Regions from separate parts of the Homo sapiens genome. Here all the other regions are reported to be linked to region 3. Evidence: microRNA targets listed by miRTarBase, many of them from high-throughput screens and not tested one by one. Region 3 holds a microRNA gene; each other region holds the end of a gene's coding sequence.
What was found. Region 3 holds the annotated microRNA hsa-miR-548e-5p (CAAAAGCAAUCGCGGUUUUUGC, at 2,961-2,982, shown strand). A microRNA usually pairs through its seed, bases 2 to 8, with sites in the 3' UTR of a target mRNA and lowers its output. Matches are read on the target gene's strand: a 7mer-m8 pairs with bases 2 to 8, a 7mer-A1 pairs with bases 2 to 7 and ends in A, and an 8mer does both.

Region 1 (5,317 bases), not on the chromosome of region 3:
GGATAATATGATAGAACTAGGATGGGGGAATAGCATTAGGTAGGATGGTATGGTTAATCAGGGTCTGATCAGAAAAGAACCACTAGGATCTAATACACATACACATATCTTAATATTCAAAATAAGGGGCTTATTATAGGGATTATAGGAGGCGGTTTCTTTTGTGTCTGGCAGTTGGAAAGGGAAGACATGGGAAATGGGGGAAGCAAGGAACTTGCTAGGATGAGTAGAACCTGTGGGAACTGAGTGGAACTTGTGAGGATGGACTGGAAGCCATACAGGTCTCTCCCTGCCTCTAATCCTCCAGTGTGAATGATGGAGTTGTCCAGCAGAAGCTGGCACCCTTTGTCAGAGTAAAACGCACACCTGGCCCAGGAGCCAGAGAAGCTGAAGGAGCCATTCCGGCAGGAACTGGTGTTCCTGTGGGCCTGGCTGTTGTCCCACAGGCCAAGAGAAGCCAACAGATAAGCAATAATGTGGATAAGCTGCAACAGTGCCTTGTGCCTTGTGCCTTGTCTGGCCCTTCCTCTTACAAAAAGAATGCAGATCTGGCTGCTACTTTACTTCTGCCTTCTATATCTTGTATCAAACATTTCTTATGGCCTACATTGTCCTGAAATTATGCATGGAAGAGAATTCTGCAGAACCTATCTCCAGGTTGACTAAACTGCACCATATAAATCCACCACAGATGGTGAGTTCTCTAAAAGACATCTCAGCTGAGAACCTGAAGGATGAGGATTCAGCCTTCCAACCATGCTAAGATTTGGAAGAGAATGTCCCAGGCAGAGAAGATGGCTAGTGCCAAGTATCTGAGGGTGTGATATAAGCTAGATCTTTTTTTGATGAAGGACAATGAGGCTGGGATATGTGTGTGAGAGAGTGGTACAAATTAAGAGATAACCAGATCATATGGGCCTTGCAGAACATAGTAATGAGTGAGGACTTCTTTTCCTAAGTGCAATGAGAGGCACATGGAGGGTTTTTGTCAGGGAAGTAGTAGTTTGATCTGATTTATATGATTTTTAAACTTTTTGAAATAATTTCAAACTTACAAAAAAATTACAAGATTAGCACAAAGAATTTCTGTATGCTCATCATCCAGATGATTTCCATTTTTAAGAGATTGTTTTGGCTACACTGTGGAGAATGGCCCTAGTGGGCAGGATCACTTCTTTCCTCACCTCCAGGCTTCATGGCACTCCTACAGCACAACACATATGATGCCCCTGGAGCTGTGCAGAAGGCTGCCCAAGTGTGGACATGGTAATATTACTTAGAGAGCTATTGCAAGAAATCAAGCTACGGTGCTTCTACCACACTACTTTCAGATCACAGAGGAAAACCAATCTCATTATTTTAGTCTCAATTCACAAATACATGTTGGAATAAAAAACAGTATTACCTCTTCGTATCTGGCTACTTCTAACAATCATATCAATTCTCAAAACAAACAAAAAACAACCTCAATGATTTGATACCACAGAAGCTATTTAAGAAAATGTTTCACAGATAATTCCAAATTTCCAAATTCCAAAGAACGTGCAGTCTCCTAGAAGAAACATGCTGAAGGAGCCCATGTTCATGTTGATAGATAGGTTCTAGTCTCATTATTTTAGAGATGATCTCAGATTTGTGTATCTCCTATGTTCATCAGATGTGACTTTACTGGAGATAATAAATAATTACCCTAAAGCAAGCTCTTCTGCCTAGATTAACTCTCCTGCTAGTAATACTGTCTGGTTAAAAGCCAGGTTCAAATACTGAAGTGTGCTGAGGTCTTACAGATATTCAAGCGCATGTTCTGATTTTAGCACAATTCCAGTTTTAATGTTCAAATCAACAGCAAAAATTATGATGGATAGCAATTCATTCTCACTAAAACACAGCTAATACATGTTCCTTAAATCATGAAGGTAAAGTGGAAAAACTAAATAGTTTGATGACCTTAGAGAAATCATTTATTCTCTCTTATACTCAGTTAAATGGGAGCCTGGTTATCACAATAGAGATGAGTAATAATGAAGGTAAAATGCCTGGTAAAATGCATCACAGTAGGCACCCATCTTATTATACACATGTCAATAAAAATAAGCATCTATTTTTTAAGGGAAGAAAAGAAATGCTTCTTAATAAAGCTCTGGATGAACCATTTATCTTCTTTCAAAAAATGTAAAAACACATAAAAAAGCATTATCTGACAAAGAAAAGTAGAAAAGATTTTTATCTTTAATTAGAGTTTGTAGTATACACTTAACTTTCTGTAATCTGCAGTGATGAATCTCTATGTAAACATTCAGAAAAAGAGCGAATACTGTGTCATGACTTATGAACTATAAATTTTGTCCCTGATTACTAGTCAAGAACAGTTTTATACATTTATTAACAACTACTTTCCTCCACTTAACAACAGCTCTTAAATAACAAAATAAATTATCAGCATTTCCAACCATAAATTTAAGAATTAAAGTTTAAAAAACTGGTTAGTTTCATAAATGCAAGCAGAGTAATAAATTTCATATATGTTAATTGCAGTTACTTATGTTCTTTGAGTGAAGTAACACAAAGATTTTTCCCTTCCCCTTTTGGCAAGTTCACAAAATTCATGAAAAGTCTTCATCTTTTTCTTTTTTGCTTAATTTCTTTTTTGCATCTCAGCTGAACACAACAGACAATAGCTGGGGTTATTAGCGAGACATGATAAAAGAAAAGGTTATGACCACTCAGACGATCATGTATACCTAAAACATAACTCAGACTTTCTAGTCTTAACCTGTAGCTCTAATGTACTAAGTGATTTACAAAGAACTAATAGAGAGATGATTTAATGAGCAGGTTGAACTTGGTAACTTTGTCATTTTGGGTCACAAACACATATTCTGCCCTGAAAATGAGGCAGAATACTAGTCATTTCCAATGAGACTAGGTACAAAAGAAAAACAAAAACAAAGCCATAGATATTTTTAAGTTGCACTACATTATTTTAACTATTTAATTAAAAAATTTAACTACCAGATCAGTGCACTGTTGCTTGCTTAAACACACAGTAAATAGATAAAAAATATTTTTAAAATAAGCCAGAAGTAAAAAGGAAAAGGCCTGAACAGCTTGACAAACAGCAACAGAATAATTTCCAATCAGTGACTATTAATGGGAATACTCATTTTATACAGCGAGTATTGACAACCATTTAGCAATTCTTTAATCAGGCACTTGATATTTTTTAGCTAGCATACTCAATACTGGGGCATCACACACACACACAAAAGTATGGCTTTATTACAAAGGATTCAAGATGGCAACTACTTAGAATCCAGTGCCAACACGGATTATAACAAATCCAGTGAGTGTTTTGTTTTTCAATTATTCATAGAAAATTTAATCCTGATTAAGTATCCTTGGGCAGGAATTCATGGGTAGTTGATGACTGAAACCAACATTTATGTGAAATGCTTCTGTTAATTTAATCTGTGTATACGGCTTAATTATGATTGGGGATTCAACGTAAGAGAAATGAATTCTATTGGGATCAAAATTTCAGTACCATATCACATAGTACCTTTTCCCTTCTTTCTGTTTAAACACATAAACCTGCTTGTCCCTTCACCTAAGTGCTCAGATTTTAAAATCCTTTGTCCTTACAACCCGTGTAATGTATTTAAGTTTTATTTTTTCATAAACTGTTTGTCAAAAACCTTTGCTAATCAAGCTAAAACCTGAACTAGAGCCAAAAATGGCAGAAAAAATTGGAGAATAACTCCACCCACAAATAAACAAAAGCTTATTCATTTAACTGTGAACCTATTTTATATTCATTTCCTGAAGTAATTTCAATTCCTTTAAACTCAAATATGAAATACATTTTCCTTAAAGCATAAAAAGCAGCAGTTTTAAAAATCAATGTATTACACTGATTTCATAACTGGACTAGTTTAGATATTTATAAGCAAGTAATCATTTAACTGATTACTTTTTATAAGACTATTAAACCTGAGTTAGCTATTAAGATGAGGCATTATAAGTGGTGAATATTTTACCAAAATATCATAGTTATTTTTCACATTTATTTCCACATAGAAATCGCTTCAATAATTTTATAACAACACTTTCTTCAAAGTTTGTTGTTTAAGTATATTTCAAAACATTTCATTTATTACCTTTTTTTTCAGTCTTGGTACTGCTTAAATGCAGTTATATAAATAACATGCTCTGCTTTCGCTGTTCAAGTTTTCATACTAAATGTATGAAAAAAAAGTCACTGTATTTGGATCCTTATTGCACTCTTTTAACCAATTCACTTTTCCTCTCAACAAAAATCAAGTATCAGAAATGAGGGCGACTTTTGTGTCCAGATGATATGGTCAGTGGTAGTGTTACTGAAGAAAGTGAAGAAACTTCCCAGTATAGACTGTGAGACAGAAAGAGTCTGTAGAGAATAACCATGGAAACAGACTGGCAAAGGATAACACCTATTGTAATAACCTGAAAAGAAAAGGAAAGGAATGCTTTTACTACATGCAGAAATAGAGAAATAATATTCAATTTATTATGAATCTATATATGCTTTTTATATAAATACAATACTCTATCTTTCATCTTTACCATAGGTACATTTTATCAAAAAAATTTTCTGACTAATGCTCAGAACTCTAATTGTTTAAGGATAAAAATCCCTTTAACAGTTATTTTGTAGATGACAAAGTAAGGCACAAAAGAATAACTTGCTAAACCATTCTCTCCTAAGGGTATGCACTACAGACAAGTTTCAGTAAATAAGAAAAATCAGGTTCCTAGCTAATTTAGGAACAGGAATAAAGCACGCTCCTACCTGAACTTTAAAGAGTACTCTAAAAGCCCTTTCAAAAATTCTCAAGTTGCTTCTCTATTTTTGTAGACTACTGTCCTATCTATTCACCCTTTGTAAACACCTCAGGCTCAATAAACATTTGTGCATTCAGGCACATACTGCATTGCTTGTAAAGGGCTCCTGGCAGACCTCTATTTTGAAATGATGGAGCCATTCACCTAAGAAGGTAGGTATCAACACAATCAAAATGCATCATACTTGAGCATGGCACTCTGGTTTGTAGTCTGTTCAATAACTAGACTGATTTTTACAAATCTTGATTTTTGCTATTATGTAAGAAAAATTTTAATCATTTTTTAAAAGATGTATTATAAATTCTCTAATTTATAAAACAAAATTTCTATTTTAAAATTATCTATTGTAGTACAATCAAGAAAAGCTATTTCCACCATTTTGCTTATAAATATTTTAAAAATATTTTAAACTTCAAATTTATCTGCTTATTGGTTT
Region 2 (5,236 bases), not on the chromosome of region 3:
TTACAGGCACACGCCACCACGCCCGGCTAATTTTGTATTTTTATTAGAACGGGGTTTCTCCATGTTGGTGAGGCTGGTCTCTAACTCCCAACCCCAGGTGATCTGCCTGCCTCCACCTCCCAAAGTGCTGGGATTACAGGTTTGAGCCACTGCACCTGCCCTTGAATTTCTTTTGGCAAAACATTTTACTTAAGGTCACACTTCCTCCCTGGGGCTGCCTGTGTCTGTGACTGGTTGATGTGAGGGCATGGAGAGGGGTCCAGCCCCTTTGCCTAGATTTCTCCCAATTCTCTAGGGTCATTCCAGCTCCAGAGCTCCCCATGGGGCTGGCTAAGAACTCAGCTGCAATTGTGAATTGCATCAGAGTTAATTATTCTCTCTCTTCCCGATCCAGCTTATTTCACTCACTTATAAATCAGAGCACCCCTGAAACTTCCTTCATGCAAACCTCCATCCCAAAACCTGTTTCCTGGGGAACTGACCTAAGAGAAAAGGAAGCTAAATAAGCCAACCCTGTCTACCCAGAAGTCCTCAAACAAAAGTGGAAGAGTTCCACCATTGAAAAGTCTGATGACTCTTGCCCAATGCACACAAAGAATAAAGAATGGTTTGTGAAAATAGCCACATGGCACAACTGTTTTCTCCCATAAACAGGACAGTGGAGCAAGGCTAGAGAGTTGCAAGAGCCAAGAGTGGCTAATATGTCACCTAGTGTAATTAGTAACTAATGAGTGATTGTCCTTTGTTATTTTAACACAGATGTATATGTTTATAGGGGAAAAAAGTGCTTAAAGCCCCTTTTGTTATGTGAGAGCCAGCCTGGCTTTGGACTGTGAAGTTATAGTCTATGTTCCTCTGTTTAACTGGCTGACACCTAAATCTAAGGCATAGATCCCAGGAGGGAATTTCATCATGATGTCTGGGTTTGGCAGTTTAAACCCATAAAGTCACAATTTCAAAACATTGCATCTAAACATCTCTGCCATGCTCTCTGCAGCCTGGTTCCATCCCCTTCGGCACCCCACTATCTCCCGACACCAAGTTCATGTCTCCCTCATGAACTTCTCTCTTGCTGTTCATTCTGCCATCTTCTTCTCCACTCATTGAAATCTCACCCACCTTGGAAGGGGCTGGGTCTCCTCTGTGGAGTCCTCCCTGCCCAGGTCCATCTTTGGAAATCCCTTTCCACCCAGCTTGTATTGCCCACACCTCTAAATCCCATCCTACTGTTCACCATAGTAGTTAACACAGGGCTAGGCACCTGTAGCTGCTCAAAAAATACAATTTTTAATGGCTTTGTGAATATATAATTTACATATCATAAAATTCACCTGTTTTAAGTGTCCAACTCAATGACTTTCAGTAAATTTACATAGTTGTACAATTATTACCATAACCCAATTATAGAGCACTTTCATCACCCAAAAAAGGTCTCTTCCACCTATTTGCAGCCACTCCCCATTCCTGTTCCTAGGCCCAGACAACCACTCATCTGCTTTGTGTCTCAATAGATTGCAAGAAATTCCTTCTAAGTTCTTGATTTGAAGCCCCTTTACATTTTTCAATGGTCACTATAACTTACCGTTGAGTCTCCTTTACAACCTAGATGTATATTTGAACAATTAGACATTGTAAACTAAGTGGCATCGAAAACTCCTCCCCTCCTCACTAACAAATTGATAGCATCTACCTCTGATTACAGTCTAAAAGTTATCATTTTTAGGTACAACCTAAATACCAAGATTTATTTTAAACTCAGTGTCGATTCAGTTGGGTTTTGTTTTGCAATGTGAAAAACAGGAAGAAGTTGGAGTGGACAGATTACATGATGGCACCCTGAGAGGATTCAAACAAGTCAAGTCACTTGGGCAAATCAAACAAGAGCTCAGACAAACATCCTTTTCCTCGATCCCCTTCTCTCAAACCCCAGGGACAAGGGTTCCTCCGGAGAACAATTACACAGGACAGCCTGCAGAAGTTCTGGATGTTACTTCCTACCTAGGTCAGATAGGAGTCAGAGTTTACACCTTTTACTATTTTTATTGGCATTCATTTAGAGGTCATTACCTGTGCATCTTAACCTCTTAAATATTAAGCAACTTAATGATGTATTGAATATGTCATTGATATATCTGAGGCAGGAGAATGGGGTCTGCAGGCAGGGAAACTAAAGGCTTCCTAGAACTCAATCAAATGGAAAAATCCCAACATTCTACCACCAAGTAAATCACTGTAACTCTACCTCAGCTGTGACAGCTATTCATTTGCGTAGGGTGCACAACAAGTAAATAACTTTGTAATTTCACTTTAGCCTCTTCATTTACATAGGGCATAAACCAAGTAACCAATGGAAACCTCTAGAGAGTATTTAAACCCCAGAAAATCCTGTAACCCGGCTTTTGAGCTGCTTGCTCGGGCCGCTCCCACCCTGCGGGGTGTGCTTTCGTTTTCAATAAACCTCTGCTTTTGTCGCCTCATTCTTTGTGCATTTTGTCCAATTCCTTGTTCAAAGCACCAAGAACCTGGACACTCTCCACCAGTAACATATCAATATATTAAATATAGATATTATATATTAAATAGCATTGATATATGACATATTAAGCAACTTGATATATTGACTAATTCACAATGATTTATTTAAAATATCTTATGAATATTTGAGAATATTTGTGTGATAACACACAAAGCATATAAGAAAAGCAGAAGTTGTGATTTTTATTTTATAATGCCAAAATAAAATGATTATTGCACAGTTAAAAAGCAAATCTTAACTAAAATGCTGAAAAGCAGTGTCTCAGCTGTCAGGGTGGCAAATAACATGAAAGTGACAATTAGTCCTCCACACATTCACAGTGTTGGCCGACTATAGACTCTTCAGAACCAGAGGTACAGTGGATATTTCTCATTCCAGGGTCATGGAACTCAGCCTTGGGAATACTGAACTATTTAAATCAAAGTTCCAAAATGTGACATCTCAAATGCTCCCTGAATTCAGCAGACAAATGAACATTTCAGGTATAGAAATTAACTCAGCTTTATAATTTCAGGTTTCTCTTTAAATACTAGAACTATAAATATTTCAAAAAGCTATTCAGGTCTATTTCCAATAATCAGATTCTCTTTTATTGTAAAACTAAAAATTTTTTGTTGTATTGTAAAACAAAATAAAAAGGCGGGGCGCGGTGGCTCACACCTGTAATCCTAGCACTTTGGGAGGCCAAGGCGAGAGGATCACTTGAGGTCAGGAGTTCAAGACCAGCCTGGCCAACATGGTGAAACCCCATCTCTACTAAAAATACAAAAATTAGCCAGGCATGGTGGCATGTGCCTGTAATCCCAGCTACTCGGGTGGCTGAGGCAGGAGAATAGCTTGAACTCAGAGGTGGAGGTTGCGGTGGGCCGAGGTTGGACCACTGAACTCCAGCCTGGGCGACAGAGCCAGACTCTGTCTCAAAAACAAACAAATAAAAAACAAACAAACAAAAAAACAAAAATAAAAATAGTCTTTCTAGATAAGGACTACCTTATGCGTAGCACATTATTTTATGGTAAAATAATACATTCCTTTGAATATATTATACAGCGATCATCATCACTAATTACATAGGAATATCTAAGATGCATTTATTATCATAATTTTCAAGATCAGGAGTCAAAGAATCCCAGTGGGACCAAGTGATTTTGCCAACGCCATCTCCTGAGTCTGTGACCATGGGAGGAAAGTTCTGTTTCCACAAAGCCAAATAGTGATTAGCCTTCAGAAAGCAAGCCTGCCTACAATACTTTTAGTAAGAGAATTGTTTCCACCCTCCCACAGCAGAAACTCATAATCTCAGGAAAATACAAGTCAATATTCATTCAAATAATCATCTCATTAACTAATAAAAATGAATTGCAAATGTTTTCTGCCCTTGGGTATGTATATTAAAAAATATTTAACATTTAACAAAGTCAACACTGAGACAAGTACTTACTAAAATACAAAGTTTTTCCATTGAAAAAATACTGTAATTAAACTTGTTAAAAATATGGGTATATATTTTACTCTTTTACAAAGGAAATAGCATTATACCCATTGAAACAATTATCTTTCATTCTAAGTGCATCCAAAATACAAAAAGATCATCACAAACCCTCATATACCTCTAACTTTTCTTAAAATGAGGAATGTTTTCAAACTCCTTAAGCTGTCATAGGCTCAGTGGCTGATTGTATATTAATCAGTAGACAATGTTCTTACGTGCTTATATGTTTTATTTTGGGTAAAATTAAGTCAATTGTCAAAAATAGGCCTGAAATAAGGAGACACATTTTCCTAGAAGAGATGTAATTGTGATAGAATATAATCATTTACAAATATGAATAAACAAATTATAACACCTTTATGGAAAACTTAAATTTGCCATAGAACTTTTTAAATTGAGAAAGTTTCTCCTTTGCTAATTGAATATTTAAATAAATTTAATGTACAGAGTTTTTGGATCCAAGTGCTACTTGCAATTTATGACGAAAGGCACCTATCCGTTCTTTCTGAACTGGCCAGTTCAAGATGCAGTGAGATTTAAACATTCCTCTTCGCAAACAGAGTGCATGGTTCAGTTTATAATCTGGAATCTCCTCAAGGAAAACCAATATAATGGAATCCAGATTTTGTTCAATAGCTTGTTGAACTGCATGATGTACCTTGAATCTAAGTAAAAAAATGTATTGAAGAATTAATATACGGTTTTTAACAGCCAGAAGCAATACTATTTAAAAATACTCTGTAGAGTTTAAACTGTTACTGAAACTCAGGTTTTTTTTTTCTTAATTTTATTTTAAAAATTCTTTGAGTTGTGAGTAATATTGGTAATATTTAAAAGTTTAATTGAAGCTCACCTGAGGCCAGGAGTTCAAGATAAGCCTGGCCAACACGGTGAAACCCCATCTCTAATAAAAATACAAAAATTAGCCAGGCTTGGTGGCGCGTGCCTGTAATCCCAACTACTTGAGAGGCTGAGGCAGGAGAATTACTTGAACCCAGGAGGTGGAGGCTGCAGTAAGCTGAGATCACACCACTGCACTCCAGCCTGGGCAACAGAGCAGGACTCCATCTCAAAAAAAAAAAAAGAAATTTAATTGAAAAGCAAGTACACACTTAAAATTTCACAATGTTTACCTACCTTTTGCATAATGGGTCTTTTAATAGATGGTGTGTTATAACAAAAATAATTTTTCTGCTTCTTTTGATGCT
Region 3 (4,000 bases):
AGAGAGAGAATATTGAGTTACATGTATATATATTCTGTCATAGTTTGAATTGCAAAATGGGTGGCTTTTTCTATTTCTGCTTATTTCTGAGTTGCATGTTATTATACTGGGTGTGGTCCTTTCTTTGCTAAAGTATTCCATACTGAAAAATAAAACCATTGCTATTTAGTTTTTTAAACATGGCCAATATACTTTAAAGTTTGTTTATCTGTAATACTAAGGGGATAAGCAAGGAGATGACTTGAAGTTCAAAATATGTTTTATAGACTTAGCCAAATTGCAAAAAATTGAATTGAGCTGTGATATGTTTTGTGTTTATGTAGTCTTATTTTTCCGATTGCCCATAAATTTATACCAGTAAAGTGAATTTTAAAAATTCTGATGCCTTTTTAGTTATTAATGTGGTATAAGGATACTATAATGTTTATTTAGAAAAATTACATCTCTACTTAATTTACATAATTTCAGTCATGAATATTTAGTATTTTAATTTTTTAATTTTTATTTTTTTTGAGACAGAGTTTCACTCTGCCTCTCAGGCTGGAGTGCAGTGGCGTGATCTTTGCTCACTGCAGCCTCCGCCTCCTGGGTTCATGCGATTCTCCTGCTTCAGCCTCCTGAGTAGCTGGGACTACAGGCGTCCACCACCACGCCTGGCTAATTTTTTTCTATTTTTAATAGAGATGAGGTTTCACTATGTTGGCCAGGCTGGTCTTGAACTCCTGACCTCAGGTGATCTGCCTGCCTCTGCCTCCCAAATTGCTGGGATTACAGGCCTTAGCCACCGTGCTTGGTCCAGTCATGAATATTTTAGAGGCATGATTACTAAATCATTTGAGGCCTGTGATGATGTTATCTTTCTCCAGAAGAGTTTTTGTCTGCCTCTGTTGGGTACCTAGTAGAGAGGGGATCACTTCAATCAATTCGTGTTCAAGGCTTGAGATGTGTGTGGTCCCCCAAGTGATTAAAAGTTTTGCTGCAGGCTAACTGGATGACTATTTTATTTCCAGTTCACCCTTACTGGTAGGGTGCAGCTCTAGAGGGTCCCAGTTGAGGTTGATGACTAGAGTCCCCACCCTTGGCAGGCCCTAGATTTTGACTCTTGCTGGAAAAATAACTTAGCCTTTTAGCTGCATCTTCCAGTTAGGGCTGTGTTCTTAGGACAGAATTATCTCCATTGTTTTGCTTGTATCTGGGTTCCCAGCTTGTTTCTGTTCTGGTGCTTAGTCATTACGTTGTTAACTCTCTGATTTTGGTTTTGGAAGATGTTTTTATTTATTTATTTTTTTATTGGGAGAATTTATTTGAATTACCTACCATTACTTGAAACAAAGCAGTTGTTAGGGAATTTCTTAGCAGGGTTGAGTAGATTGTCTTAGGTTATACAGGACAATTATTTACAGAAAAGCAAGCTGAGACATGGATGTAATAAATAGCCGTTAGAATCTATGTTTCCCTGATTTTTGGCCCATGACACTATCGTATTACTATTTGTAGTGGAAAGAGATTACATATTCTAGTTAACTGGTTTATGGTTTAGATGTCCCTCTGAAAGGCAAGATTGTCTCCAACACATAATGAATTATTCTATTAATATCCAAAATAAATATTCTACTAAATGTCCTGTATAAAATAAGAGAATCAGATTTCTGGTTCAAGATAATAAGGACCAAGCACAATTATTTCATGCTTTTTTTTCTCTTTAAAATCTATTGAAATGGCCAAGATGAACAAGGAGATGTGACCTTAGGAGAAAAAAAACATAGGATATTTAAACTGCATGTTTAAAACATGATGAGGCTGATACAAAAAGGGAACAAAGAATAAAATACAATTCTTAGAGATATGTTTGCCAAATCAAATTTAATGGAAAATTCCATATAACCAAATGAACACAGCCAGAGACCAAAGTGATGATCTCTAGGATAAATTAAAAGTCCCCTAGAATCTAGATCAAAAAGAAATGTATACAAAAGAAGTGAAAAGTTAAAAAGTCATGGCAGATAGGACTAGACGTTCCAGAAGGCCAAATAGTGGTGATAGTTATAAAATATAATTTTATAATGTTTCCCTGAACTTGATAAAAACCCGGATAATAAGACCAAAATTGCTTACCAAGAAGAAATAAATTAAAAAGTTACATTCTGGTGGTAGTTTTAAATATTAGATGTATTTGTTTTGAATAAATAATAAATTCACATGTAATGTTATACAACCTATCTTTACCTGGTTTTTGGTTTCAGGGTAATGCTGGCTACGTATGTTCAATTTTTGGAATAGTTTGTATGAAATTGCATTATTTCTTCCTTTAATATTTGATAAAATTCACCAGTGAAGCCATCCAGGACAGGACTTTTCTTTATGGGAATTTGTTTTAAAGCAATTTCAATTACTTTAATAAATATAGGGCTATTCAGGTTATCACTTTCTTCTTCAGCAAACTTGGTCATATGGGTCTTTCAAGGAATATATTTGTTTTATTTCAATTATCACATTTAAAAGCATTAAGTTGTTCATAACATTCTTATTATTTTAATATCTGTAGAATCTATAGTAATGCCACCTCTCTAATTCCTGATATCAAGAATTTGTATGTTTTCTCTTTTTCTTAATCATTCTGGTTAGAAGTATATCAATTGTGTTGATCCTCTCTTAGTTTTATTGATTTTCCCTATTGTTTCTCTGGTTTTTATTTCATTGATTTCCATTTTGAACTTTATTTCACCAGCTTACTTTGAGTTTTATTTGTTCTTTTTCTAGTTTCTTATGGTGGCAGCTTGAGGTCATTAATTTGAGACCTTTCTATTATTCTCATAAAGACAGTTAGCACTGTAAATTTCCCCTTAAGTACTGCTTCAGCAGCATCCCACAAATTCTGATATGTTGTATTTTCCTTTTAAAAGTTTTTTCTAATTTACCCTTTTGTTTCTTCTGTGATCTATGGCTTTATTAGGTTGGTACAAAAGCAATCGCGGTTTTTGCTATTACTTTTAAAGGCAAAAACTGAGACTACTTTTGCACCAACCTGATAGAAGAATGTTATTTTGTTCCCAAAAGCTTGACAATTTTCCATGATATATTATTGACTTCTAATTTACCTCCATTGTGGTCAAGAACATTCCTGATAGGACTTGAATTCTTTCATCATGGTAAAAGTATTCCATGTGCAGTTTAATGTGTATTCTACTTTTGTTGGGTGGAGTGATCCATAAATATGAATCATGGTACAGATGAGGCAATCAATGAGTTTATTCTACTTTCTGCCGTTTCTGGAGGAGTCTCTTTTTCTTCTTATTTTTGTTAACTGCATTGTCAGCATAGGTAACATACCTTGTTGTACTAATTCCCATTTTTGTTTTAGTCTTAATGTTTATCAGCAGTCCTGTTGCCATAGTTGCCTCAGTCATTTCTTGGTTGGCTGAAGTCAATCTGGTTGGTAGTCATTTGCTCAAAAATGGTTCATGGGAGCAGTATTCTCCTATAGTTCTTGCATGTGTGTAGCTTTTATAATTTAAGAACAATTTAGATAGATACAAAATAATTGGATCAAACTGCCTTTCCTTGAGGATCTCAGTAGAACTTGTTAACAGGTAGTTCTACCTTCTTCTGGAATTGAATGTACAAAAATAAGAGGCCAGTCCATTTTCTTTTTTCCCCATGATAAGTGACTTAGTCATTTTGCTTGGCCAGCCAAAGTATTATTTCTAGATTTCTGAAATTTTAAGAACTATATTTTATTTATCAGTGTTTATTTTTCAGGATCATATTTTCCTAGTATACTCTGGGCCAATTCAACATATAGGTTTAAGTTTTATTTCAGTACAGTGTTCTTCAGTATATTCAGTATATATTCAGGGTATATATGCTTTCTGTTTGCCATATATATTCAGTGTATATTCAGTATAGTGTTCAGTATAGTAAATATGTCACACAGTGACATATTTAGTTTGTGTTGTATGTTTTTACATTAAAATATGTATCTGTAAGTTTGGTTAGTATG
Region 4 (5,089 bases), not on the chromosome of region 3:
CCTCAGAATTCCAAACGTGCTTGGTTCTTCACATTGCAGTTTACACATTGGGAACACTGCCTATAATCTAATGAGTTTCAAATTCACATTTCTGTTGCAATTTTTTCCTGAGCTCCAGATGGAATAACTGATTGCTTGCTACAAAATTCCATCGTTTTTCTACCACTATTTCAAATTCCACTGGTCTAAACCCAAGCCCATCATCTCACTCAAAACCTTCCTCCATATCTCATTAAGTCACATCATCATCCACCCAGAATCCAGAAATCTAAGGATCTTCTCAAATCCTTCCTGCTCATCATCACCTTCATCGAATTGCTGAATATTCTACCCTATATACCTTCCTCGGGTATATGTATATGCACCCTATATACATTTCTCTTCCTCAGCTCCACTGACTAGTTGGTCAAGTTGAGTCCTTTATCATCTCTTTCCCAAGTTCCTTTTATTGGATTTCTAATAAGTTTCACTTTTCTCTGTCTCTCTTTTTATTGGATTTCTAATAAGTTCCACCTTCTGTCTCATCAATTCATCTTCTACCTACTACCAGAACTTTATATCAAAAAAATTTAAATTTGGTCATATCACTGCCATGCTTGAAAGTTTTTCATGAATTTCCATTGCCTCCAAAATTCAAGCAAATGCATTAGGCTGATGTCAAATGTCCTTCTCTGATGCCAATGTATCTTTCAGTCACATTTCTCACCTCTGCAACCTGAAGCCCCAATGACTAATGAGTTTCATTTTAAAGCAGGTCATGTTTGTATAAACCCCCAATATCTGTGCGTGTGATTTTTCCCTCTGCTGAAAATGCCTAGCCCCAAAGCCAAAACCCCACTCTGTTCACTTGGCAAGTCTAATCATTTTCTAAAGCCCAATTCAAAAACAAACTCTGTAAAAAAGTCATAGACACTTAACATCAGAAATTTCAGTTTTTCATATTCAGGGATTTCATAATCCTTTGCAGAAATCTTCATAACAACTTTTATCCCCACATTGTATTAAATTACTTGTATCTGAGTTGTCTGTTTTCTCCACTAGACTGCAATTCACAAACCATATTTTAGTTATCTTTTACGATCTCAGCAGATACCCTGGTACCCAGTCCTTAAGCCATAGGGCATAATGTTTCTAGCATTTAGTAATGACTCTGGAGAGCCAAATTTTTAAATTTTCTTTGTAACTTACCAGCCATGTGCTTTGGACAGGTTGTTTAATCTTTAAGCTTCAAAGGTTTTCTCACACATAAAAAGAGATAATAAAGATGCATTCAACAAATATTTATTAATTTCTACTATTTGCCATGCACTGTTCTAAGTGCTGGGGATATATTACTGGAAAAATATACCAAAATATATGACTTTATGGAGTTTATGTGTGAATAGATACCTAACTAATGGGTTTGTTGGCAGATGCAAAAAAGATAATTATGCATAAATTACTTGCCCACTATGAACTATGTAGAAATTTTAGGTCTTATTTCTTTCTGACATAGAAAAATCTAGAGAAGAACAGTGTGGCTCAAACATTATACAGCGCCTTAGTGATCATTCTAACACTCCTGTTCAGTCTCAATTGTAATTCTTATTTTCTCTTTTTTTCTCAAGAGGATTTATGGAATTTGATGATAATGAAGGAAAACATTCATCAAAGTGACATCCTCAGGTGATTTTTCACTTAAAATTTACAACTGAAATAACAGTGTATTGGACAAAGGAAAAAGAGTCTGTCCAGTTTTATTTAATAATTTTGGTTACCCATGTCTACCTACAAGCAGAAAAAGTACATTTTAAAAAAATAAATGAATATATTTTTTTCATGTACAAGTTTCTAATAATAAAATTTTCTTAAGAGAGGAGGTAGAGCTGTGAGATGAAGTGAATAAGGATGGCAAGTTTGGAGACCTGATTCCTGTCACAAATCTGCTAGGAACTTGCTTTGTACAAGTTCAGCCTGTGAAATGAGGGGCTAGCACGCACTAGCAATCTAAGGACCCACGTAATCATGCAGTTAGTTACTCATAAGAAGAGTGAAATTTGCTGAACCTAATTCAGAGAGAAAGGATAACAAACTTTCTATCTCACGCAGTTAGATATATGGGCAAACAATATAGTTTGAGTGCTCAGAAATACTTGCTTTTTCCCTACTCGGGTCTCTCCTGAAAATGCATATTGAAATACGAAAACAAAAGTGTTAGATCTGGAAAAGTAGTAATATTAGTAGCTGGTATGAACTGTGTTCTTACTCTGTTTTAGGCATTAAGCTAAGTGATTAATGACTAAGGGCTTGTAGTATTTAATTCATAATCACTATGCAAAATAGATATTATTATTCTTAAATTTTATAAATAAGGAAATGAAGGTTCAGGGAGGTTTGCTAATGTGGCTATATTGATAAAGGATGAAGACACAATTTGAATTTAAGCAGCCTGATTCCAAGGCCTGTGCTGTATCTCTAAGCCATAGTGCTACTGGAAACAGAGCAGAATAGTATAGGAGAAGGCAGTGGAGAATAATGATTAAGCTAAGTAATCTAAGTCATACCTCAAGATGTTCATAGAAATACAACACCACCCCTTTGCTTAGTTGAGTTACTTTATCTGCATATTCAGGAAGCATGGCCTTTCCCAACTTCTGTTTGTGATCTGGTCTGGAAATGCTCCTTTTCCCCATTGGCTCCATTTCATAACCTGGGTGTGATTAATGTAAGTTCAGAAAGCTACTATCATATTCCCCCGGAACTTAGCCCACCCTTTCCCATGTGCTTCTAAGGATGAGAATCAGGCTTGGGCATTGAAATCAAAACATGCCCAACCCCGACACTCCTGACTCTTACCCTAAGGCCAATTAAGCTTTTAAACTCAGTCACTTATGTTTGTATGTCTTCATTCCCATCTTCTCAGAGAACAGCCTGCCTCTTCTTGCAGGTGTCCTAATACTTTGCCTTCATTCCGGCTTCTGGTACACACCTATAATTTTTGGTACCCACACCCCAAATCCTTGGAGTACATCCTACAGGTCTGGTCTATGATGTAGTCTAATAGGCAAGGCCACATGGAGGAGCAGAAAGAACAGAAGACATAGACAAGATGTAAATTCAACTTCTAAATCAGCCACTTAATGGTTATGTAACCGTGGTCAGGCCACTTTACCTGCCTGAGCCCCACTTTTCTCCTTATGAATTTTTAAAACATAGGGAATCTTAATGCCATAAATTTTTTAACTGCACATGAAAAACTTGGAATTGATGCATGAACCAACCTAAGATGCCCTGATGAGCAGGGAGGAATGGCTCAATCTAGGGTTGTAATATAAAAAACATTAAACTAGGGAGAAGGAAGCAACTAAGGGAGAGACTAATTTTTGTATTCTTAGTAGAGACAGGGTTTCACCATGCTGCCCAGGCTGGTGTTGAACTCCTGGCCTCAAGTGATCTAAGTGATCACTTGGATGCCCACCTCAGCCTCCTAAACTGTTCCGATTATAGGCATGAGACATGGCATGCAGCCAGAATTTCCTAAATTAAGATAGGTAGTTGGATAGATAGATCTTATGTTTCTCTTATTAACATTGATTTTTTTTTTTTTGAGACAGAGTCTCACTCTGTCACCCAGGTTGGAGTGCAGTGGTGCCATCTCGGCTCACTGCAACCTCTGCCTCCTGGGTTCAAGTGATTCTCCTGACTCAGCCTCCCGAGTAGCTGGGACTACAGGTGTGCATCACCACACCCGGCTAATTTTTGTATTTTCCTTTAGTAGAAATGAGGTTTCACCATGTTGGCCATGATGGTCTTGAACTCCTGACAGTGATTCACCCCCCTTCGGCCTCCCAAAATGCTGGAATTACAGGTGTGAGCCACCATTCCCGGCCGATCCCTCCCTTTTTTTTTTTTTTACACATTTCTTTAATGCTTCTTTAATCCATACCTACTATATCAATCAGCCAATGCTACCAAAATGAATAACTAGCTGGCTGTTGAGAAGTTTATGGACTCAGCAATCACATAGCTCTGTGTATCTCATAACTGTGGAAGGAAATGATAAAGTTATGCATAAAGGGGCCTTGGGAATGCCTTGGAAAAGATAAGAAGGAATATCTGGAGGAGGGGATAAGCATTATGAATGCTCTACAAATAAGGTGAACTCTGAGAGAAGAGATTCTACACACAACCTGATATGATGAGTAGAGAGAGGTACAGTATTTGGAAAAATATCCAATAACCGAATACCTGGTTCATCTGAGAACCTCTCAGCCTCTACTGAACAACATTGGCATGATTTTTACTGGCTTTAATATTTTCAATAAAATTAAAATTTTAACTCCATTTGTCCTGCATTGTTTAAAACCATATGAATTCAAGTCATCTTTTTTTGTGTCTTAAGTCATTTGATATTTTAAGTATAAATTTTCTTTCCTGCTTAAAAACAAATTTGGACAAACCTCACTAGATTACTAAAATTATCAAAAGAGGTAATGGATAGAAAGTCACTTTATGAATTCTTAATTTTTATACAAGTGTTTTGGATTAAGGCAAAATGTACTATAGGACACACTAGACTTTTATGCTTAGACTTGCTCAGTCAGAACTTCCTAGGGAGGGATCTAGGAATAAGTAAGTCAGACAGGAAATTCCAGTGCACCTGATAAGCAAAATTGCCCGTGGCCACAATGTCACTTGATTACGTTTTCATGAAGTCTTATGGAAAATTTTTCTTTTAGAAATCAGGCAAAAAAAAAAAAAATATGCCTTCCCTAAAGTCAGATTCCTCTTTTCTGCTTATAAGATTTATGTGATGGCTGGGCATAGTGCCTCATGCCATTACAGGTGCCTACCAAATCCCAGCGCTTTGGGAGGCCGAGCGGGCAGATCACCTGAGGTCGGGAGGTGGAAACCAGCCTGACCAACATGGAGAAACACTGTCTCTACTAAAAATACAAAATTAGCCGGGCATGGTGGCACATGCCAGTAATCCCAGCTACTCATGAGGCTGAGGCAGGAGAATCGCTTGAACCAGGGAGGCAGAGGTTGTGGTAAACCAAGATCAAGCCACTGCACTCCAGCCAGGGCAACAAGAGCGAAACTGTGGCTC
Region 5 (5,317 bases), not on the chromosome of region 3:
GAATGCTTATCATTTTCACATCAGTGTAAAGTTGAAAAAATCATTAAATTGAACCATAGTAAGTTGTGAACAGTCTGTATATAATTTGTATAGAAAAACATTTTGCTATTCTTGCTTTAAACCTTTTCTCCTTTTTTTCCCCACTTGGTAATGAGAGCAGGGAGTTATTGCCACTAAAATATATTATATAAAATATTATATATATACATATATACATGTATATGTATATAATATATACATATACATGTATATATAATTATATAATATATATGTATATAATATATGTATATATGTATATATGTATATAATATATGTATATATGTATATATACACGTATATCTGTATATATAATATATATGTATATAATATATGTATATATGTATATATGTATATATACACGTATATCTATATATAATATAGATATACACGTATATCTGTATATATAATATAGATATACACGTATATATGTATATATAATATACATATATACGTGTATGTGTATATATGTATATATACACATATATATGTATATATACACATATGTATATGTATATATAATATATACATATATACATGTACATGTATATATAATATATACATATATACATGTACATGTATATATAATATATACATATATACATGTACATGTATATATAATATACGCAGATATACATGTACATGTGTATATATTATATACGCACATCTATACATGTACATGTGTATATATTATATACGCACATCTATACATGTACATGTGTACATATTATATACGCACATCTATACATGTACATGTGTATATATTATATACGCACATCTACACATGTACATGTATATATTATACACGCACATATACACATGTATATATGTATATATATTATGCATATATGTATATATGTATATATATTATACACATATATGTATATATGTATATATAACATATATATGTATATGTATATATAACATGTATATATACATGTAATATAACATGTATATATACATGTAATATAACGTATATATAACATGCATGTAATATATACATATATTATATATATACAAATATATATTACAAAATACATATTTTGAATATTAAGTAGGAAATTTAGAATTTTAAGTCATGGGAAGTCACTTTGAGAGAAGATTCTTAAGGTGATATACATGCTGTATTTAGAATTTATAGATGGTTTTGAAACAAAATTAATGAAAATCATCTTTCTGGTATTATTTGAAGTTGACTGCAAAATGTAAGATGAAAAACAGAAAAGTCAAAAAGAACCCTGATGTTATAATTTGAACTGAGCATGAATCAAGATCTATTAACTATCTTGACAGTCTTCCAACAAAAATAATGATTATTTTCCATAATCCTTATTAACTGCTATCATTTAAAATTCAGGCCAGGGATTAATTAGTAAGAAACGTGTTACTTATACTGTTTCTGTGAAAGGAAAATCAGGTCTATATTATGAAAAATATAACTGAGAAACAAAATTTGTACATTCAATACCATCGGTTAATTATCATTTCGAAAGAAATAATTATCATTTTGGCTTAAAGTTTAGGGAATGAAAATAAGTTATTGGAACGCCCTCGATTTATGTTATAATACATTTTCATAAGCCAGATATAATAATCTTTAACTAGAAAAACGACCTGTGGTTCTTCAGCTGTTTTTTCCAGTACTTCTGATGATGGCATTGCAGTGGATTCACACAAGGTATTGAAATTGTTACACATTAAAACTTTCACCTGTTTTGTCAATAAATTATCTTACTATGTCATTGCACCCTAGTTCTCTACAGGCCTGGGTCTCCACACACGACAGTGCAACAGAATAAAAGTCAAATGTAGTCCCATTAGTTCTCCGAATTACATTATTTGGAAGTCGTTTATATTTGGGAGTATCAAGTGGACACTGCTCCTTGGGAAAAGACGACTTCGGAGAAATAGCACAAAATTATTGTTCCCTTGTCTATTTTGTGCATGTAATTTCAAAATATAATGGCTTAGACTTTGGTAATATTTTTTATAGAGCTGCATATTTCAAATACTAGCAAAATACTTGAAAGGCTACAATAAAGCTTGAAAGTTGCCAATAGTAAAGGTATTTGCACGATGCATTGAATTTTGAAAAGCCCAAAATAAGAATCTTGAAAAGTACAAAATAAGAGTAAGGTACATTACAGCATTATGAAAATTTCAAGGGAACATCCACTCACATCGTAACACTTGTCTTTAAGTATAGGAATTTTTTAAATTAAGAAAATTCTATAGAAACTAAAAAACCTCAATGCTAAAAACTCCAAGCATTATTTTTGAATTTAGAGAAGTCATCTGTACTTAATTATGGAGTTAAGAATATGCTTATTATACTGCTTTAAAATTTTAGGCAATAAAAAGTTCATGACACAGTTAAAACATTAATTTTGAGAAACTGGACAGAAAACAGACCTCATTTTCAACAGCTATTATTGATAGGGCAACGCAATCCCTAGAGCAGATATTTCCAGAATTCTTTCCAAAGCTATCTCAGAATATAAAAATGTAGTTTTATTGTTTTTGAGAGAATTTTGTTACTTAATCTATGGAAATATGTAAATGTAAATTGAAGCATTCATTTAAAGCATCACAGATCCACCAGTGCGTGCTGGGACTGCAGCACACCTTGGAGATCCTAATTGAGATAAGGATACGCAAGTTGAAATGCCAGGTCTTTGCAAAGTCACAGACGTGAAGCTGGGTTGGCTAGCAGCAGGTCTCCAAACCCCTTAGTAGATAGGCTGTCCCCTACCTCTCACCTCGCAAACCATGCTGTTGTCTTACTTATTTCATGTCTCTGCAATCTTTGTTAAGCAAGCCTTTAAAAATGTGAATACATTGACTTAATGATGTGCTAAGTATTTAAATTCCAACATTAAAATACTTTTCTCATAAACCTAGCATCTATAATCATTAATAATGCAAATCACTGCACTGGTAATTGGGGGCTCCCCATGCCGCCATATTTTCCTGAATAAGGATGGTTCAACCTTCCAGGACAGGAAATAGTAATGTCTAAAGAGAGTCACTTAAGTAATTTAGAAGTCTGAATTTGGCTCTTCGGTAATCTTGGACACTCTGTAGTTCAGTGCTGGACAGAGCTCTGTGAGTTTAACAGCATCAAGGGAAAGAAGAGCCCATAGCCCACGAATGGATCTGGTGTTGGAGCCTGGAAATGAGGTTATACGGGTCTCATCTGAGCCAAATTCTAAGGACAATGGGGTTTAACTCATGTTTCCCAGAAATTTCCATACCCTCATTTAGGAACGTTGCCCATTTTAGGCTATATGCTTTATGTATATACAGAAAGTATTCTTATATATTTAGTCTTCTAATAATAACTATGAAATGACTTCTCACAAATAAGAAAAATAGGTCAATCAGTTGTATGGATTTCAGTTACAGTTTCACATGGTAGAAAGGCGAGTAAAGTCTCTGTTTATAAAAAAAATGAAGGGTTGAGGGGAATGTGGAAAGAATGGAACCCAGGGCTATTTTCCAAATGCAGATCACTGATCACTGGATGATATAAAGAAGGCACAACTGAAGCAATGGTAAAGTCAGTAAACAATATTTTACTGAAACATTTCATAACACAGAAAATCTGTCTGAAGTGTAAAGTTACTGTCTTACACAAGGAGGACAGACCCATTTTCAAAGACTAATATGAATACAATAAATATGGAGTTTACATACTAATTTATACACAGAAACTCTGCCCCATAGCCATAAAATTTATATTCAACAGTGGAACATATAATTTAATCATTTGATTTATTTGACAGGTTTTCCTTACTAAACACAAATAACTACCTGGTTTTCATATACATATATAATATATTTTTATGTATATAGATATTCAACAATCTGTACAGTTTCTAAACATAAAGCTCCTAAAAGGCACAATTGTCTATACAACATGTACAAAAATGGCTGGAGCTGACACAAAACAACAATTATTGGTCAAAAGTTCATGATTGCACAAAGATTAGTCATGAGTTTATGTCAGAAAAATGTGCTTTAAGGAAAGGAGGGTTTTCAAAGAAACCTTTAAGTGTTATATAAAAAAAAAGCAAATAAAAAATAAAATCCATCAGGTTGCTATCACAAGCCTGTCCTCGTCATCATCGCTGCTCACGTCGCTGAAGTGCACAGTGGGCTGCCTCCGCGGTAGTGCTGTGGGCCTGGGAACCTGTCTGTCTGGAGAGAGAGTCTGCTGGCCTGAGGGCTTTGTAAAAACTTCAGAATGTGCCTTCAGCAGAGGTTGTGACGTGGACGCTGGTTGGCCCTGTATGGAAGTGAGTTCAGGCTTGGGCTTCACGTGATTTGCCGAGGCAGCCTTCTCTGTGTCCATTTTACTCAGGCCATCAAGCCTTGCATGGTCACCTGCAGGGGCAGGTGGATTCAGAACTTTTTTTGCATTTTCCCGCTGGACTGTAGGTAACCCCTGAGGAGACTCGGTCCTGCTGACCTGGTTTGCGCTGGCTACAGAAGTCTGCTTGGGTTGTGTCTCGCATGCTTTGCTTTGGGAAGCTGGCATTTCTGGAGCTCCCTGTGCATCAACGGCTACTTGACTGACTGAGGGGATTAAGGTGGGCAATGCTATGTTCAAGATCTGGAGACCTGGAATGTGTGCCTGAGGGGCGGGGCTGCTTTGTGATGAAGGGTTTGCAGTCAGAACCTGCAGTCCGACAGCATTCAGAGCCAGTCCTGGTGGATGGACTTGTGGGGCCATATTTGTATTGGCTAGGCCTACAATATTGACGGTTTCCATGCTTAACGAGGGGAGTGACTGCAAGCCTGGGGTACTTAGGTTCTGAAGGCCTGGCACGCGGATTTGGCCGATAGGAATACATGGCACAACACTGCTTAATTCAGCCACTCCAGCAGGGTTTGTAGTGCCAGACACTTCTGTGACCGTATTCCTATGAGTACCCAAAGTTCTGTGAACGACACTGACAGCAGGGATCGTGAGCTGCACTGGTCCAGCCTGAAGGGGCACAAACGTGGAGTATGTGAGGCCAGCAGGTACCACATGGATCCCCCCAACTGGAACCATATTATAAGGTGTCCTCGATTGCTGCTGGGAATGCAAAGGAAGGTGGCTAAACAAATGAGTGTGGGGAGAAGGCAAGCCTGGAGTCGGCTGTAGAGTTATTTGCTGCTTCTGTTCTTGAGGGTCAGGATGTGGTGAGGCCACAGAAGGCATCCCCGCTGCTGTCTGGGGGCTGTGCTCAGCTGCAGCAGGAGGAAGTCTTACAGATGATGGGCTCTAAATGAC

Region 1: miRTarBase lists GPR180 as a target of hsa-miR-548e-5p. Seed matches in the 3' UTR shown: 7mer-m8 at 3,878-3,884, 7mer-m8 at 2,187-2,193 and 7mer-A1 at 1,745-1,751.
Region 2: the mRNA of TLR3 is a reported target of hsa-miR-548e-5p. Seed matches in the 3' UTR shown: 7mer-m8 at 2,786-2,792, 7mer-m8 at 2,760-2,766 and 7mer-m8 at 2,699-2,705.
Region 4: miRTarBase lists C5orf46 as a target of hsa-miR-548e-5p. The part of its 3' UTR that is shown has no 7-base or 8-base seed match.
Region 5: miRTarBase lists HIVEP1 as a target of hsa-miR-548e-5p. Seed matches in the 3' UTR shown: 7mer-m8 at 4,105-4,111.

The regions. Positions count from the first base shown.
Region 1 is chr13:94,626,178-94,631,494 of GRCh38, reverse strand. GPR180 (G protein-coupled receptor 180) reads right to left here. Exons shown (of 9, transcript NM_180989.6): 9 at 1-4,482. The coding sequence ends at 4,324. Among named protein-coding and RNA genes, the nearest start is that of GPR180, 27 kb to the right of the region's middle.
Region 2 is chr4:186,084,102-186,089,337 of GRCh38, reverse strand. It overlaps TLR3 (toll like receptor 3), which reads right to left. Exons shown (of 5, transcript NM_003265.3): 4 at 5,166-5,236; 5 at 1,265-4,693. The coding sequence ends at 4,465. Among named protein-coding and RNA genes, the nearest start is that of TLR3, 18 kb to the right of the region's middle.
Region 3 is chr10:110,985,980-110,989,979 of GRCh38, forward strand. It overlaps MIR548E (microRNA 548e), which reads left to right and starts at 2,947; the gene lies at 2,947-3,034. All of the region lies in intron 3 of SHOC2 (SHOC2 leucine rich repeat scaffold protein), which reads left to right.
Region 4 is chr5:147,893,560-147,898,648 of GRCh38, reverse strand. C5orf46 (chromosome 5 open reading frame 46) reads left to right here. Exons shown (of 4, transcript NM_206966.3): 3 at 1,608-1,665. The coding sequence ends at 1,656. Among named protein-coding and RNA genes, the nearest start is that of C5orf46, 10 kb to the left of the region's middle.
Region 5 is chr6:12,163,274-12,168,590 of GRCh38, reverse strand. HIVEP1 (HIVEP zinc finger 1) reads right to left here. Exons shown (of 9, transcript NM_002114.4): 9 at 3,592-5,308. The coding sequence ends at 4,130. Among named protein-coding and RNA genes, the nearest start is that of EDN1, 120 kb to the left of the region's middle. RefSeq lists enhancers at 3,905-4,405, 5,125-5,174, 5,235-5,294.